4 linked regions of the Homo sapiens genome follow. The protein of the gene in region 4 purifies or fractionates together with the protein of the main gene of each other region. This does not show direct contact. Each region holds a gene or a part of one and is shown on either strand. Other genes may lie near its edges.

Region 1 (5,010 bases), on a different chromosome or scaffold from region 4:
CAGGCCCAGAGGTTCTGATTCAATAGATCTGGGATGGGGCTCAAGAATGTGCATTTCTAACAAGTTCCCAGGGGATGCTGCTGTTGCTGCTGCTGCTGTTAGGGTGGGGACCACACATTGAGAACCATCTGTCTAGAGCAGGTATATCCTATCTTTTGGCTTCCCCGAGCCACATGGGAAGAAGAAGAATTGTCCTGGGCCACATATAAAATACACTAACACTAACCATAGCTGATGAGCTAAAAAAAAAAAAAAAAAAAAAAAAAAAATCGCAAAAAAATCTCATAATGTTTTAAGAAAGTTTACAAATTTGTGTTGGGCTGCAGGTTGGACAAGCTTAGTCTAGAGGCTGATACTTATGTCCCTGTCCTGTCTAGGCTTTAAAAGACAAACAGAATGGACACTGGTAGTAGCATCCCATGTATACTTGCAGAGATTAGAGAAGGAATTTCCCCCTTGCTTTCATAACGTTAGGCCACAGACGGGTAAAAACAAGCCCAATGTGGATCTGTGGTCTCTCATCTGAAATCCTGGGGACCATGTATAATTTGGAACTTTGAATTATCTGGTCTTAAGTATATGGGGCATATACCACATAGTGACACCTAGCAAGGTAAAGGGCAGCAATTCATAGTTAAACATATTAATATGACCAATCACGCTAAGTGATATTTTAAAAAGATTATAAAGTAGCCTCTCTCCAGTTCAGGTCAGGTTTTACTGGCAAATGAGTTATGAAAACTTGATAGTCTTAAATTTTGGTCATTCTACAATTTCAATTTCTGAATTACAGATAAGAGACTTTAGATCTACACTCTTAGAAAAGGAAATGTATTTTTCTTTACTGTTCTTCTTACCTGCTTTTAGAACTCTTCATCACCACATGAAATAAAATGGTTGAGATTTGGAAATAATGACAAATCATGAAAATAAAAACGTGAGCGGGGCAGAAACTTATCTCAATCTGGGCAAGCTTTTGATTTTCAGAAGCTTACAAAAATAATGAACCATCAGAAGTAGAAAGTGGTAACTCTCAGAGCTTAGAAAATGAAACTGGTTAGGAAAAGTTCCATGTGATTTAGTTCAATGAATTTAGTTTGTCCTCCACCTCTACCCCTGGTTCATTTACTAAAAATAAATTTTTTTTGTTTTTGTTTTTCTTTTTTTTAATTCTGTTTATTCCTCCAGAAGACCCTAAATACAGACATTATAACAAATTTGTTTTAATATCATACTCATGTTTATTCTCCTTCTGCTTGCTTTTCACAAACTGATAATACTAACAGTGTAGATTTAGGAAAGTTCAGCAGCTTTTGTCTCAATTTGCCAAAAAAAAAAGAAAAAAGCATTTAAAAGTAAATGGACTTTTTTTTTTTGAGACAGGGTCTCACTCTGTCCCCAAGCTGGAGTGCAGTGGCACAATCTCGGCTCACTGCAACCTATGCTTCCTGGGCTCAAGCCATTCACCAGCCTCAGCCTCCTGTGTAGCTGGGACTACAGGCGTGAGCCACCAACGCCCAGCTAATTTTTCTATTTTTTGTAGATACGAGGTTTCACCATGTTGTCCAGGCTGGAAAAGTAAATTGACTTTAAAAAAAAGTAAACTGGTTAATATTTAAACTACTGCTTGAAAAGAAATGTAATACACTACTCTCATTAATAAACCAACTTTTAAAACTTTTTATATACCTACAAAGTGACTTTAATTTTGTAAAATGTACTAAGTATTGTTTGCTTACATTCCCCCTCCCCACATTTTCTTTTCCCTATGAAATTCCTCCCAAACCTTTCTCCCCATAGCTTCAAAATTTTAGGAAATATTACATCGTGACTGAAACATGCCTTTTCACTTGTCTTACTAACATGGAAAAGCCAACTTACTCCTTGACTTTTCATCATGGCAGCAGTTTACTTATTTTAGGTTTTCTGCAGTCAGACCACACATACAATGCAATTTCTTCCTCACACTTAGGATTTCATTCTTAAGAAGCCAGTTTGACCTGTGCAACAGCGCCAGACGACACACAGATGTTTGCTCAATAAATATTTGTTGAATTAATGAAGGAAGGAAATAGAAATTCTTCCTAATTCTATTGATATTGACTGAACATTCTTATTACTATTAAAATTTTTTTTAAATGAAAAGGTATCAGTATGTTGCCCAGACTAGACTCAAACTCCTGGGCTCAAGTGATCCTTCCACCTTAGCCTCCAGAATAGCTGGGACTACAGGCATGCACCATCGTGCCCGGATAACTGAACATTTTAAATAATTCTTTGCAAAGAAATTTTAGCCAGGGCAGGCGCGGTGGCTCACATCTGTAATCCCAGCACCTTGGGAGGCCGAGGTTGGTGGATCACTTGAGACCACGAGTTTGAGACCAGCCTGGCCAACATGGTGAAACCCCGTCTCTACTTAAAAATAAATAAATAAATAAATAAATAAATAAATAAAATGAAAAAATAAACTTAAGAGTTTTTTTTAAAAAAAGCTTTAGCCAGATTCCATTTATTTTAGGTTGCTTAATCATAAATGAGTAACCTCAAACACCATAGACCAGCATTAGAATAGTAGCTAAACTAGCAAGTTCATTTCTGTAGGTTTTGTGATTTCCTGTTTTTCCATACTCCCAAAAGGCGTTTTCCAAAAACACAACTTCACAATTGAGGCACCCAGGGATCCTAAATGGTTAAGAGATCTATACGTTCTTGAGACTTGTTTCCTGAGGGTCAAACTGATTTTTCCAGCATGGAGAAAACACAGGACAGCCAGGTGCGGTGGCTCACACTTGTAATCCCAGCACTTTGGGAGGCCGAGGTGGGCGGATCACGAGGTCAGGAGTTCGAGACCAGCCTGGCCAATACAGTGAAACCCCGTCTCCACTAAAAATACAAAAATTAGCTGGGCGTGGTGGCAGGTGCCTGTAATCCCAGCTACTCGGGAGGCTGAGGCAGGAGAATCACTTGAACCCAGGAGACAGAGGTTGCAGTGAGCTGAGATTGTGTCACTGCACTCCAGCCTGGGCAACAGAGCAAGACTCTGTTTGAAGAAAAAAAAAAAAAAAAAAACACAGGACAAGCCTAGATAGTCTGTCCATTGTAGATAAATGATTCTTTACAAGGGATCCAACAACTATTTATCAGCCTTTTTTTTTTTTTTTTGAGACAGATTCTCGCTCTGTCGTCCAGGCTGGAGTGCAGTGGTGTGATCTCGGTTCACCGCAACCTCCACTTCCCGGGTTCAAGCAATTCTCCTGCCTCAGCCTCCCGAGTAGCAGGGATTACAGGCATGTGCCACCACGCTTGGCTAATTTTTGATTTTTAGTAGAGACGGGGTTTCTCCATGTTGGTCAGGCTGGTCTTGAACTTCCAACCTCAAGTGATCTGCCCACCTTGGCATACCAAAGTGCTGGGATTACAGGCGTGAGCCACCACGCCTAGCTATCAGCCTTTTTTAATTTTTTAATATCAACCCTTGCTGGAATTTTAGAAGAAACAGAGTAGTAATAACTATAGTACAGCGTGAACCATTCTGATGAAAGACACACAAGGAAAAATTATTTAGATAACAAAATAAAATCTCTCTTCTGCAAAGTTAAGTCCTTCACAATGCTGTACTAGGGTTCAGTCACGAGAATTTACCATGTGCCAGAGATGGTACAAGATGCTAAGGACACAAAAATAAATAGGACATAATCCATGTCCTCAGGTAGTGTTTAATTTAGGAGAATGGCTGCTACTATTCTGAATATGAGAAAATGAGCTTGATACAAATCACAAGAGACTCCAGATTGCTCAGTTTGGTTTTTTAATCCTTACGTCAGCAAAACAGAAGGGGAAGAGTCACTACTCATCCAAAACAGTATATACCAAACTTGTCTGATCATATGAATGTCAAGGGGCTTGTTAAAATACAGATTCCCAGAATTATCTCCTGGAGAAGGTTAGGAACTGGTTCTCTACTCGATTCACATGAGCAGGCAACTTTTGGAAACATGATCTAGAAGAAAGCTAAGACATGCAGTAACTCCCTCAAAAAGTTAGAACATTTCTAGAAAATGTAACTTATTAACTGGTTACAGAAAGGGCTGAGCTGCCAAAGAATTTCTTCTGCAAAGCCTTGTCTCAGCAGAAACAACGGGGGAAGACTCATCTTTTAGGCTTCAAAACGAAGTCACATTTGGCAGTGTCCAGGAAGCCAGGATCCTTGCCCACAAGGAGCTCAGTTTCCTTTTTAAAGAGGTGAGAAGGATTCCAAATAGAGAAAAACGTTCAAACATTTGAACCTAAAGTCAGGGAGTCGGTGATCAGTTTGATAACATGGGCAGCACTGTTTGGTGACCAAACAAAATATTATAGAACAGAAAATGTCTATTATCTAACCTATCTGCTCCTCTGTGTCTGAATGCAGACATAGAGTGATGACTATGAGTTACCTTCAATCATCTCTGGAAGGAGGCAGAGCATCCAAATAAATAAAGTAAATAAACAAATAGTAGCTATCATGGTTTTAAGGCAGAATGCAACATATAATGGAAATGAACCTGACAATGGTGACAGATGTCAACGAGATAGTTGCAAGGCAGGTTTAAAGTTTAAAGGTTTGGGAGGCTGAAGCAGGTGGATCACAAGGTCAGGAGTTTGAGACCAGCCTGGCCAGCATGGTGAAACCCCGTCTCTACTAAAAATACAAAAAATTAGCCCGGCGTGGTGGTGCATGCCTGTAGTCCCAGCTACTTGGGAGGCTGACGCAGGAGAATTGCTTGAACCCAGCAGGCAGAGGTTGCAGTGAGCCAAGATCGTGCCACTGCACTCTGGGAAACTGAGCGAGACTCCGCCTCAAAAAAAAAAAAAAAAAAAAGTTTAAAGGTAAGGTGGAGGGAGAAATGGTGTATAAACGAACCTTGCTCTTTCCCACCTGTGCAAAAACACACGGTAGATGCTACTACATGAAAAAGAAATCAGATTAAAAGCAGTTAGGAATCAAGCCACAAAACAGAGTTAATTCCT
Region 2 (5,010 bases), on a different chromosome or scaffold from region 4:
CTAACTAGAGGGCTAGTGAAATAGTCTAGATAAGAAAACAATTTGTATTAATAAAAAAATCTTCAGTATTTACACACATATTAGGGAAGATATCTATTTTAACTACTGTCCTCTTATAGTTAAGAGCACCAGCTCTTAACCTTAGCCTGGGTTCAAATCTTGACTCTGCCTACTTAAAACTTATGTGATCTTCTCACTTGTAAAATAGAGATAATAATTGTAACTACATCATAGAGTTGATTTGAAAAAGCATGAGTTAATAAATGCTCATATTCAGTGTAAAGTAGTCTATTAAAAAATGCTCATAGATCATCCCTGACACATAGTAAATAATCAATGAATGTTAATTTTACATTTATACCTCTATAGTTATGTAGCTGGCTTGGTTTAGCTTTATTCTTTACATCTTTAGTCACTCTTAAAGGGACTGTTCCTTTTTTTTTTTTTTTTTTTTTTTTTTTGAGACAGAGTCTCCCTCTGTCACTCTGTTACCCAGGCTGGAGTGCAGTGGCGCGACCTTGGCCCACAGCAACCTTCATCTCCCGAGTTCAAGTGATTCTCCCGCCTCAGCTTCCCGAGTAGCTGGATTACAGGCATGTGCCACCACACCCAGCTAATTTTTGTATTTTTAGTAGAGACGGGGTTTCACTATGTTGGCCAGACTGGTCCCAAACTCCTGATCTCAAGTGATCTGCCAGCCTCAGCCTCCAAAGTGCTGGGATTATAGGTGTGAGCCACCGCGCCCGGCTGGGACTATTCCTTTAAAACATTCTCCCTAAACAATTTGTTTTGATTAAGGAAAGAGGTAAAATCATTTGTCTGTAATCCTAGACAGTGTTGGTGAGATGTGTAGGGTAACTATCATCTTCCACCCTGTTTGTATTTCCCAACTTGTTTAATTTCCCAGTAACTACATCCTACTAATTTTTGTCTTAAAGTTAGTTTTTAAAATTTTATAGAACAATCTAGTTTTGTCCTTGGTTACTTATTGAAAATTTTACTAATTTCTTACTTTTTAGGTTTTAGGAGAATACTTTTTGGATAATTGACTAGCCTCACATTATATTGATAGAGGTTCTTGAAAACTTTAATGCCAATTCATGTATCTTATGACTAAAATAGATAATCCATTTAGAAATTTAAGTCATTCTTGCGTGCTTGATATGTGTCAGCACTATCCAAGTTGCTAGGGATACAATGGTGAGTGAAAATATCAGCTAGGTGCAGTGGCTCACACCTGTAATCCCAACAGTTTGGGAGGCCAAGGTGGGAGGATCACTCAAGCACAGGCGTTTCACACCAGCCTGGACAACATAGCAAGACCCCATCTCTACCAAAAATAAAGTTAGCCAGGCATGGTAGCACACACTTGTGGTTCCAGCTACTTGGGAGGCTGAGGTGGGAGGATCACTTGAGCCCAGGAGGTTGAGGCTATGGTGAGCTGTGATCACACCACTGTACTCCAGCCTCGGTGACAAGAGCGAGACCCTGCCTCAAAAAAATATATATATATATGTTTGTGTGTGTGTGTGTGTGTATAGTCTGTGCCCTCATACAATCAAGTATTAATTAATCAAATTATTACACAAATACATGTCAAAATATTTACTAGGGGTAATGAAGGTAAGTTCATAAGACTATGAGTGGGCTCAGTAGGAGGACTTCATTTTATCTGGAAATTGAAAGACATCCAGAAGTAGAGTTAAGATCTACAGAATTATCAGACTTTCACTAGGCATAATGGAATGAGTGGTACGAGACAATGGGTAAAAAAGAACAACAACGTGCCAAGATACTAAGGAAGAAGAGAGAAAGATACCTTTGAGGTCCTGAAAGATAGGATACAGAGAGAGAAAAGTGGTACAAGTCTACTTTAGAGAAGTCAGTAGCAACAGCAACCAAATCATTGTGGGCTTTTAGGTCCTTGTTAAGGATATGGGTCTTTTGCAGAGACCAGTAATACGCCACTGAATAGTTATAAGCAGGTTAACTCGATCTGTGTTTTTTAAAAGATCGTTTTGGCCACAAGGTATTGAGCCTCTCTGTACCAGTTTCTATACTTTAACAGTAATCACCTGCTCCCCACTATATATTATTGTGAAGAATAAATATGCTAATACATGTAAAAGGAATGGTATCTAGCACCAAATAAGCACTCAAAAAATGTTAGCTAGAAAATAAACCCTGAGCCTAGAACAACAATACTTTTTTAAGGGCATAATAGGCACTAAAAAGTATCTATTGAATGAGTGAACCAGACGTTTACCAAACATGTAAAACTATCTGGGTGAGTTTTTGGGAGAATATAGCTATATCAATTTTTAAAAATTTTTATTAGTCTTTCATTTTTGTATAGAGCCAAATTTCAATATTTTCTGGTAAACTGGCCATTTCATCTAATTTTTAAAATTTACTTGTATAATATACCTGATGCCATTTGGAATATCTCCTATTTCCATTTTATCTACAGGTATACATGCCTAATATTACATGTATAAAGTAGATAGGACTACTTTATTGATCTTTGGGAAAAAATGTCTTTTGAGTATTTATTATTTTTTGTTTTATATACATACACACACATATCTATTATATATACACACATTTTATACATATACAAAATATATAATATATTCATATACATATAAATGTATATGTATATATAAATATGTATATAAAAAAACAAAAACTCAAAAGCCATATATGTGTGTGTGTGTGTGTGTGTGTGTATATATATATATATATAGGCATAAGGGAGTAAGTGGAACAAGACAATGGATTAGAAGGCACAACATGTGCCAAGATACTAAGGAAGAAGAGTGAAAGATACCTTTGAGGTCCATTTATATATATATATATATATATATATAAATGGCTTTTAAGTATTATATAAATATATATATATAAATGGCTGGGTTTTGGGGAGAATAATATATTTAATAATTTAATATATATATTTGGGTTTTATGTGAGTCTGTGTGTGTGTATATATACTTTTTTTTTTTTTTTAAGAGATAGGGTCTCCAGCAATCCCATTACTGGGTACACACCCAGAGGAATATAAATCATTCTACCATAAAGACACATGCATGCGAATGTTCAGTGCAACACTATTCACAATAGCAAAGACATGGAATCAACTAAATGCCCAGCAATGACAGTTTGGATAAAGAAAATGTGGTACATATACACCATGAAATACTATGCAGCCATAAAAAAGAATGAGATCATGTCTTTTGTGGGAATATGGGTTGAGCTGGAGGCTATTATCCTTAGCAAACTAACACAGAAACAGAAAACTAAATACCACGTGTTCTCACTTAGAAGTGAGAGCTAAATGGTAAGAACTTATGAACACAAAGACGGAAACAACAGACACTGGGATTTACTTGAGGAGGGAGGGTGGAAGGACAGAGAGGCACAGAAAAGTTAACTATTGGGTACTGGGCTTTATATCTGGGTGATGAAATACTAAGTTGGTGCAAAAATAATTGTGGTTTTTAACACGTTTACCTATGTAACCTTCACATGTATCCCCAAGCCTAAAATAAAAGTTAAAAAAAAGAGAGATATGGGGTCTCACTATGTTGCCTAGGCTGAATTTGAATTTGGGCACAAGTGATACTCCCACTTCAACCAGCCTCCTGGGTAGCTGGGACTACAGGCACATGCCACCACACCTGTCTCCTTTATGAATTTTTTTACTTCCAATTATAAAAGTAATATACAACCTCCTTAGAGTAAGTCAAACAATACAAAGATGTAAAAGCAAAAAAAGCTGGGTGCGGTGGCTCACACCTGTAATCCCAGCATTTTGGGAGGCCAAAGTGGGTGGATCACGAGGTCAGGAGTTGGAGACCAGCCTGACCAACATGGTGAAACACCATCTCTTAAAAAAAAAGAAAAAACAAAAAACAAAAATTAGCTGGGCGCAGTGGTGCGCGCCTGTAGTCCCAGCTACTCGGGAGGCTGAGGCAGGAGAATCACTTGAACCCGGAAAGCAGAGATTGCAGTGAGCCGAGATCGTGCTGCTGCACTCCAGCCTGGGTGACAGAGTGAGACTCCATCTCAAAAAAAAAACAAAAAAAAACCTCTTTGTAACTCTATTGAATGCCTGTTGTCATTCTCCTAGATGTGAACTCTTCCACACCTTTTCCCATACTCATAAAAACATATAGGGTTTGATGGGGTGAAACACATATGATTATTTAATTAAAATGTCATGGTCTTTAAGTCCTTACAAAGTTTTTACCAATAGGTAAACAAACCAAATCAGTTTTTAATAAGGAAGTCTATTGGTTCATATAACTGGAAGTCTGAATAGGACTGATTTCAGGCTTAATTTGTTTTCCTCTGGTTCTTACGGCTCTGCTCTCTTGACTTTTCTTAAAGAATTGAATTACTTAAAGAATTCTTCACTGACAGATATTTTTCCTAAATGCATCAAAACTAGTATTTTATTGTCTTCTGACTTCGATTATAGCTGTTGAAGCTTCCTGTCAGTTTGTTATATATTTGTAGTTCATCTCTATTTTCTCTTGTAGCTTTTTAAATTTTCTGCTTCTGCATTTTCACTGCAGTTTAAGTGGATCATCCAAGCTTCTTAATCTCTCATAATTTCTCTCTTTGTCTCACTCTCCTATTTTATGGATAATTTCTTCAGCTCTATCTTCTACATCATTAGCTTTAAAAATTTATTATCAGTATTATTTTTGATTGGCAAATTATAATTGTATACATTTATGCGGTATAGCGTGATGTTTTGATACATATATACAACATGTAATGATTAAATCAGGCTAATTAACATTGCCTTGCCTATAATTTTTTATGATGAGCTATTTGAAATTCAGTCTCAGTTATTTTGAAATATACATTATTATTGACCATAGTCACCTTCCTGTGCAATAGATCTCAAAACCTATTCCTTCTGTCTATCAGAAACTTTGTACTCTGTGATCAACAGCTCCCTATTCCCTCTCTCCCCAAGTCCCCCACCCCCAGCTTCTG
Region 3 (5,010 bases), on a different chromosome or scaffold from region 4:
CTATAAAGAACTTTTGAATATCCTAGACACAAACGTGCCATGACAGTTAAGTCTGCACAACTGCTCTCAGTGATGTCCGACATCAAAGGGGAAAATGACCACACATTTGGAAGGAAAGACTGATAAAAGAGGGTAGATATGTACATAACAAAAAAGCCAAATTATTTGTCAAGTCTCCTGTGTCCATCTAGGGTGTCAGCATCAAAACCAGTGGTGTGCCATAGCCAGTTGGCACCAGCTCATGTAAACTGATTATGCATATCTCTTTCCAACTCCAGATTCAATGGCATTATATCACTAACTTAAATAGGCCATGGTGGAAGGGTTTACACCATAAATGAATCAGGGCTTTCTCCCCCAAGAGAGGAGGTTGTTAAACACTTTGCCAGTGCACTATTGATCAAAATTCATTAGGTAGATCCATGAGAGCTCAGACATAAATTTGAGCCAATGGTGAAGTGTGGGGGCAAGAATGCGGGTTGGAGACAGGAATAAAAATTGTTTTCTTAAATAAATTATTTAAGAAAACATAAATAATTTCTAGCTGTGTCCTTTTGAGAAATTAAATGGATACAGTTTAGCTGTTTAATCTTAGATTACTTTTTTATTCATTACCATACTGACCTTACATCTCTCACATGAGATTTGCCTCCCTCAACCACAGTCCAGAGATTGGAGTTTCTCTAACTAATGTCCAAACTGATCTTCTTAATGGAACTCAGAATGAGTGAGTGTGGCAGAACTTGGCTGCTGCCGATATTCTAAAGAGGGAGAACTGGTGAGACAGATGTCCTTAGATTTGCTGCCTAGTCCCCTAGTGACCATTTTAGTTTTTAGTATCTTCAACCATTTACTGTTAAGGGCAACAGTGAAAAAAAGCAAGTCCTCTGTAATAACAACAACTAACATTTATTAATTATTTATAATAATAACAATAATAACTGCAAATGCATATAACACTTAATTATGGGTGCCAAGCACTACTCAGTGCAAGTACTTTTCATATATAAATGTAATAAATACAGCAAACCCATGATGCAAGTTCTACAATGGTCTTCATTTTACATATGAGAAAACTGAGGCTCACACTGGTTTAGTCACTTGCGTAGGTGACACAGCTAGTAAGTAAGAGAAAGGATTTGACTATGGATATCCTAAGATTGTGCTCTTAACAAGAGAAAGAAAGAAGCCATTAAAAGGTGATAGAGTTAAATACTTACATAGATTCAGGTGTAAAATGTAAGTGATCCAAGTTAAGGTTGTCCAGGTCCTCACTTTTGAGAGAAGATATAGAAGACAAAGTGCCACGACGAGAACCTAGACACAAAAGACATCACTTGGGTGACGGATACAAACAAAAAAGCCCTTTCCCCTCACTTGTATTTCGCCCTATTTTCTCTGTGGAGGCAGGGTCAAGCTCAGTGACTTTCTCCTAGATAATATTAAGGGTTCTAATTCCAAAGAGGGATCCTCTTGGATGGATAGGGACTTCCACTGAGAGAAGAATAAAGCTGGGCTGCTTGCTTGCTGGCAGTGAAAACAACTTCAAATCTTGTATTTCATCAGGCCAGCCTCTTCAATGTTCCTAATGGGGTCATTACTCTGGACATTGGCATGGGATCTTATAGTGTGAGTTTCTGGGAAAGACGGAGGGGTATCTACTGCAGGATTATGGCTAAAAGAGGATGCATAAAAAATACATATTTATTCTTTGGGAGCTAAACAACAGTGACGAAGGCTAGAATAAGGGAAGAAGACAGAAAGATCCTTACGGCGTCGTGGGCTTGTCTGGTTAATATCTTCTGGGTCATCTTCCAGGAAGAAAGTTGAACTAAAGTTCTTAACAGATATTGTCTGTCTGCTTTCCTCATCCAGAGCTATAGAGAAAAGTGGGAGGAAGGAAAGCAAAAAAGAAAGGAGGAAGGGAGGGAGGAAGAAAGGAGGGAGGGAGGATGGAAGGAAGGAAAGATTAATTACACTTATTGAACATTTATCGAGCATCTATTTTGTTTAGTTAGTGGGTAGATGATGGAGACTCCCATTCGACCATCACGTCTCCTCCATGATACTGTTTGTAGTCTCAGCTTGCTTACAGTGTTGCTGTTTTTTCATATTCATGCCTGAGCTTTCTTTGTTTTACTGGTTACTCTTTTTTCTCTCACCCAGTACATGTGGTTGTGAGTAGAAGCTTGTGGCTGTGGATTGGGGTATCAGCATGGGAAACTCTCTGCTCTTCTACCTCCATTCTATTAGTTCATTTACTTATGTGGCTTTTGTCTATAATTGAGCCTCTAGGACTGTGCCACTCTTTCACTCTAATGTCTCACTCCACACCTGGAACATTTGGGAAGTCTCTTTCCTTTCACCAGCCAAATGTTGTATAGCTGAGATGCCCAGTCTCAGCCTGTGTCAAAGCTCATAGGTTCAATCTCTACCCCTACCAGGGAGGTATTTTCCTATCTCATAGCCACAAGCTACACCTCTAAATCTAACATATGTGTTGATGGAGCAGACTGAGGGTTGGTTGCGACAGTTATGGCTACATCCGTTTAATCTGATCCACACTGCTTGGAAACTAATTATAGAAATAGAGGCAAATTGATTGTTTAATCCTTCCACTGTGCAGAAGGGAGATTTTCTTTCTTTCTAGGAAACTTGGCTGAGGTTGTACGTGAAGGTACCAAGGCAGGGCAAGGCACCATGGCTAAAAGTCAAGGGCCAGCCAAAGGGACTTCCTTGCTGCATGGGACTTCTGCTCAGTTCCAATAGTTCAGTTAGAATACACTCATTCTTATACCACCTTCTGATCTGTTTCTCAAAGTATTGTGGGAAAGAAGTGGTCAGCAAAACATTCAATGAAGAAACTGAGGGAGTTGAAGAGTTTTCATTCTGAGTTGGGAAGTTTGCAGACTGTCGTGAGTTCTGAGCAATGGTAATTAATGCTAGAACTGTCAGGACCACTCTCAGGGCCCTTGTGCCTGATTAATCATGTGCAACACATGCAGAGTTGAACACCATTTTCTTTCTAAAATAGTCATAGGCTCAGTGGTTGGAAAGAAACAGGAGAAGGAGGAAAAAAGTCTTATGGCTGGTGGTGGAAGCTGATAGAGCTTTGAACCAGGTCACTTAGCATCTATTAATATAATTGTATAGGATGAGTGTTGGTTTCCAAAAATGAGTAGCAGGAGTTGACTGTCTGGGAGGTAGGAGGAGCCAAAGGGGCAGCTTAGCAGGACTGAGGCTTTTCAAATCAGTAGTCTGAATACTGACTTTGTATACAATATGAATGCAGAATCTAGACTTTTTGTAGCAGAGTCAGAGAGCAAACCCGGAGTCAGTGAGGCCAGTAAACCATCCTCTGGAACTTTTTCTTTCCCCTACCTCAGTCACTACAACCCTGGCCACCTTACCTTGTTCAACTTGAAATATGATGAGTTTCAAGGATTTCTGGAGACTCTGGGCCTTTGTAGCCAGCTCCAACTTGCACTTGGCTATGTGGTCTATTTGAGGAATGAAGGGCTTCCTATCTGCCTTGCTGCTGTCTGCATATTCTGTAGCACTTTTTTCAGCAGAAGTAGCTGCTGCCTCCTCAGCCAGGACATCGATCAGGACACTGAGCCTATCATACATTAAGTCACTCTATATAGAAAGGAAGGAGACAGGGCATTGTTATGAGGGACCCATGCTTGAGAGGACAGAATGAGGAGTGGTGGTGATATGGGGAAGGGTAGGGAGGGGTAAGAGTTGTCCATAAATGCTGAGCATAGAAAACCACATGTGAGAAGATGAAGTACTTAGCAAAAGAAGTAGGTGGGAAGATGTGATGAGATAACCAAAGGGTGTTAGGAGATCAAACACATATCATTTGTTTCTGAGTGGCCCCATGCATCAGTGTATATAGCTGAGTCTTTCTTGTGTCAAACGGGCCTATAAAACAATGTATAACATGCAAACTTGAGGAAAGACAAATATTTCTGGATTTTCATGGGCACGCTCCTCTGGATATGAACGTGTCCCTGCTTGGGTGCTTGGTGTGTGTCTTTGTATGTGTACAGGCTTGGGGACCTACATCTGCTGCATGATTTAAGGCCTTGATTCTTAGCTCCATCACTTAATAGTTTGCGATCTGAGGCAAGTTTCTTAACCGCTTTGTGCCTCCATATTCTAGGGTAGTTGTGAGGAATAAATACATTAATACATTAAAAACAGAACAGTCCTTGACACAGAGTAAGTGCTATATAAATGTTGGCTATTGTTGTTAGAGAGGTAAATGTGAATGTATTTGTAGTGTGTATTCGTATGTACATACTTGTAAGCATGTTCTGGTGTACAACCATGCACATACCTGCTTGATGTACACTTGTGTCTAGTTGTGGGCAGATGCTTGGCATGTACATGGTATGTGTGTATGCATGCAGAGCGCCATCCTTCATTTAGCAAAAGATGGAAGTTCAATGAGGTTAGACCTTCCTCATCAGGGAGGCTTAACAGCTGCCCCTCCTTTCCTTTCTTTTACCATTCCCAGTGAGAGGCATGTTTGCTTTTTATTAAAAAGGGCCCCTGGCTGCTCCACAAAGAGTATAAGACAAAAGGAATGGGAACTTACTTTCAAAATCACAGACACTATTGCAGTGTTGTTCTGTTTTATCTGACCCCAGGCCTTTACAATATCAACCACAAAATCTTCCACAGCTGAACACAAGAATCTGGAAAGATAAAATAGATGGCACAATGTTACATGAACCATGAGGCCCAGAGCCCTTCTCTCTTATGTCATCAGTCCCCATCCTCCTCCTCTCTCTCTTTCCTGATCTGTCCTCTTTCTCTCACCCTCTGCTCCCAGCCTTTTTCTCTCTGCTTTTTTTTTCCTGTGCATATGGTGAAATATGTTCCATCCCCACTTTAGTTCAGTGTCACACCACTTCCCAAGTCAAGAACCTAATAGAGCTTGACCAGCATTTCTTAGTACTAATTCTGAATTTCCAGAAAAGAGAATTCACTTGGTCCAAC
Region 4 (3,829 bases):
CTTCTTATCAAATACCCCGATTGCACAATAAAGCTGCTAAATAATTCAGCAGCCTTGATAGGAAAATGCAGCTTCCCAGTGAGCGCAGTTCATTTAAATGAATGTCTTTAAAGGGGGCTAGGGAGTAGAGGCTATAATGAATAAGTTAGCTAGGATTTAATGTGTATAAATGCTAAAAAGGTAAAAACAAGCCGATCCAGTGATTGCATATAAAGCAAATAAAGAAATGTGCTGCATGCAGAGGCTGGGAGTTTCAAAAGTCTCCTCTGTATTTCATACATTTTTATTTCTGAAAGAACACTGCCAGATTCCTCCCGGATAGCCTCCTCCCCCATTAGATAAGCCATCATATGGATGCAGTGAAATATTGCTTATTTTAAAGCCTTCTCTGCAGGAAAGATAAACTTGGCTGTGTCTTAACAAAATTTGAAAACAGCACTGGAAATTATATACCATTTAATGTCAAACCTTTGACTTTTTAAATAAGGAAATAAATAATCCAGAGTGAAATCTAGGTGATATGGAAAAGAAATCCTGGAACTCTAATAGCATCTGATACTGAAACACACACACATCCACAAGAATATTTCATAGTAGATAAAATATTCAAATTTCTTCCAAGTCTAATGAAGGACTGGAAAGAATCGAGCTACTTTTAGAACCTTTTGAGTTGAAATTTGATTTTGATATTAGTTATTTTTGTTCATCTTTCAGAGAAACTTAATATGTATCTTGTGCCAGGCAAAATAGTTTTCCTTCTGGGGAACTTCAAAGGTAACAAATACTATAAAACAACAATTTCATATCAGTTCTGTGAAAGGGATTAAAGTATTTCATTTCTAGCTGTACTATACATTCATTTTACATTATCTTTCAAACCACCAAATTAGAAAGCCTTTACATTATCTTTCAAACTACCAAATTAGAAAGCCGGATTATCTATAGGAAATGAAATGAAACTGAAAAGGACCACCTCTAACTATGTATTACAAGTATCTGATACAAGCCCAGTTTTGCATGTGCAGGGAGAGTGAAAGAGGGAATGCCTTGGATCTTATGCCTAATCACAGACCTGGACCACTCATTTTTTAGCCATGGATTTGATTTCTATTTCAAATTCTATATTAACTTATCAGCAAACATCTCTTCAACGGTATCAGTTAAATCCACAGGATGTAAATCTGTAGCTAATAACAGCAGGAAGCCACAGAGAAAAGCTTGGCTGGCATTAGCAAAAGGTTTCAGCCATAGCCAAGGCAAAAACAGATATATCATCCCAATCCTGCCTCTCTTTTCCACCTGGCTTCTGAGGACCCATTCAGCTCCCCATCAGGGTTCCCCTTTGAAAACATCAAATAACACACCAATTATCTAAACATCAGATTTTCTATTTTTATTAAAAACTCACAAATTTATTCAACATGTTTTCTTTCATACAGTGAATGGTCTAATATGCACTGGAGGTCACACAAGCTTAGGTTTATTAGAACAATAAAAGACATATGAGAAATTTAATATATAAAGAAAAAGTAGCAGCTGTTGACTGCATATTTGACCATAAAATTTAAATATTTTGGACTTTTATTTTAAAGACACAAAAATAAAACCTGTGTGGGTCTATATAAGTCATATTAACAATTCCATGAATGTTCAACAGGACAAAAAAATTAGCAAAGATGTTTTTTTTTAAATCTTGTAACACTTTTTTTTTTTTTTTTTTAACACTTTCTCAGGTTGCTGGTGCCAGGCACCTTTACAGTATTTGTGCTATAATTATTCTATTTGGCAACTGTCTGAATAGCATGTTTTCTCTTTGCCTCGTGTAAACAACACCTTTTTACATACTAGCACAGTGAGCCGAAAGCCCTGCAAATCTGTCAGAACATCTACAGGAAAAGAAAAGGAACAATTTTGGTTGATTGCTCAAAACATTTTGTTTTCGAACAAGAGGTTTCAAAACAGGATATATTAGTAAAACACTGAACTCCTGAATTTAACATTATACGTAAACAGTTGACTGTTTTTAGTTCAATAGTCTTTTTTTTTTTTTTTAACTTTTTGTGTGTGAAGGTAGAATACTTTTCTTGTACAGCTGATGTTCAAGTCATTTTACTGAGCGGTCTGGCTGGAGACCATCTTACCGAGTGTGTCCGTGTACGTGTGTATGTGTGTATGTGTAGTTTTGCGAAGGTAGAAGAGTTGATACGGAGGGCTTTACATTTAGAATTTTGCAATTTTGGCAAAAACAAAAACCAAAAATCCAGATAGACAAAAAATATATATATAGTCCCACCTGATGCACGGCAGGTCGGCGTTTCTGAAGCTATAAGAGTTTTTTGTCGCTGTTGTTGAACTCTGAGACAACACTAATAAGGGATATCCCAGAGCTAGAACCCTCCTGGCTGGCCCGGGAGCGCCCTGGGCCGCTTCACTTCCTTCACCCGGCTGTGCTCACGGCCTCCCTCCCCACGGCTCCTGGCATCGCCAACGGCTGTGCGCACCCGCGGCTGCCCTGGACGTCTTTTCGCCGCCCGCCTGCCAGGCGCACACGCCCGCGGGGTCTGTCTACGGATCCGGGTCCAGGTGGGAGTTGGGGAGAGGTCTGCGTTTCCTTTGGGGAGCCCCAGTTCTGCACGTCGACAGCCAGTGCGCGGATCCCAGTCCCACCTCGAGGCCGATTTGGATCCTATTTCGTGTCCCCCTTTTCCATCCGGTCTCCCCAGAAGGAGAATGGTTCTCGAGGCTGGAGGAAGGGGGTGGGGACTTGCTTTTTATGTTTTTTTTTTTCTATTTTTCTTAAATAAAGGTTCATTTCTGTACAACCACGAACTCCGCAGACCGTGCGAGACCCCGCTACCACACGGCCGCCTCGTTCATTTCGGGGGGGTGGGACAGGTGGTTTCCGTAGCTCGCCCCACCGTTGACCGACAGCGACGAGAAGGGCGGGCTGGGTCCGAAGACCTCGGCCGACATGGAGTGCAGAGGCCCGGGCAGGCTGGGCTCGGGGCTGGGCGAGTCCCCGGGTGGGTGCGCCAGGATGTCGGTAAACCGCTGCGCCTCGCTCGACGGGTGGTGGCCCGGCAGCGGGTGCTCCAGGCCACCCAGGGGCGTCCCGGACGGCCCAGATGACGGCACGAAGGGTAGGTCCACTGGTGTCTGGGCCTGCGAGGACGGGGGGCCTTGCGGGAAGAAGTCGTAGTTGCCCCCGGGCCCGTAGTACTCGCTCTGGTAATCTGCGGAGCGGCGGGGAGGGCGCAGGACGTCAGGGCCCGGCCGGGGGCCGGCGGGACCGAAAGGGAGGGAAGACGCGACCTCGGCGGGCTGAGGAAGGCCGCGCGGGGAACTCGCGGATCGCGGGGAGCCCTCGCGGGCCTGGGTGCAGGGAGGAGGCTGGGCGCAAGCCCGGGAGCTGCCCCTTACCAGCTACCCCCGTTATTCAGGGCCGTGAATTGGGTCCTCGGTCTCGCCGCCTCCCCTTGATTTACTCCCAGCCTTCTCCCTACTCGCCCCAACTCTCCAGTGGCTTACAGAGAGCGAGGCGTGCCCCCCCGCGCTGCCACCCGCTTCCAACGAAGCCCGCCCCGACCTGGCCGCGCCCCGCCATTCGGCGCGCACCCACCTCCGTAGAAGGAGAAGGGACCATTGGGGATGAGCTCGCCCGGCTCCAGGCGGTCCACCAGCGGCCGCATCCGGCGCGGACTGCGGAAGAAGGCGTGGCGCCGGGCGCCCAGGGCGCTCAGCTGCTTCATCCTCCGCTCCTTGGAGCGCCGGTTCTGGAACCAGACCTGCAGCACATGGCGGCGGGGTGAGGCCACCGAGACTCCACCCC

What was found. Proteins that work in one complex are often made in the same cells at the same time.
Region 1: the proteins of LHX1 (region 4) and AIFM1 purify together in Homo sapiens (affinity purification with mass spectrometry; one large-scale study listed by BioGRID and IntAct). This does not show direct contact.
Region 2: the proteins of LHX1 (region 4) and TMED5 purify together in Homo sapiens (affinity purification with mass spectrometry; one large-scale study listed by BioGRID and IntAct). This does not show direct contact.
Region 3: the proteins of LHX1 (region 4) and DGKK purify together in Homo sapiens (affinity purification with mass spectrometry; one large-scale study listed by BioGRID and IntAct). This does not show direct contact.

What each region holds. Positions count from the first base shown.
Region 1 is NC_000023.11:130,158,464-130,163,473, forward strand, and holds part of AIFM1 (apoptosis-inducing factor 1, mitochondrial isoform AIF precursor), read right to left. Parts: intron 1-5,010. UniProt on the Homo sapiens protein: Functions both as NADH oxidoreductase and as regulator of apoptosis.
Region 2 is NC_000001.11:93,173,036-93,178,045, reverse strand, and holds part of TMED5 (transmembrane emp24 domain-containing protein 5 isoform 1 precursor), read left to right. Parts: intron 1-5,010. UniProt on the Homo sapiens protein: Potential role in vesicular protein trafficking, mainly in the early secretory pathway. Required for the maintenance of the Golgi apparatus; involved in protein exchange between Golgi stacks during assembly.
Region 3 is NC_000023.11:50,382,948-50,387,957, forward strand, and holds part of DGKK (diacylglycerol kinase kappa), read right to left. Parts: intron 4,707-5,010; coding exon 4,607-4,706; intron 3,640-4,606; coding exon 3,411-3,639; intron 1,878-3,410; coding exon 1,773-1,877; intron 1,318-1,772; coding exon 1,221-1,317; intron 1-1,220. UniProt on the Homo sapiens protein: Diacylglycerol kinase that converts diacylglycerol/DAG into phosphatidic acid/phosphatidate/PA and regulates the respective levels of these two bioactive lipids.
Region 4 is NC_000017.11:36,942,156-36,945,984, reverse strand, and holds the end of LHX1 (LIM/homeobox protein Lhx1), read right to left. Parts: intron 3,786-3,829; coding exon 3,620-3,785; intron 3,234-3,619; coding exon 2,854-3,233; 3' UTR 1,373-2,853; downstream 1-1,372. UniProt on the Homo sapiens protein: Potential transcription factor. May play a role in early mesoderm formation and later in lateral mesoderm differentiation and neurogenesis.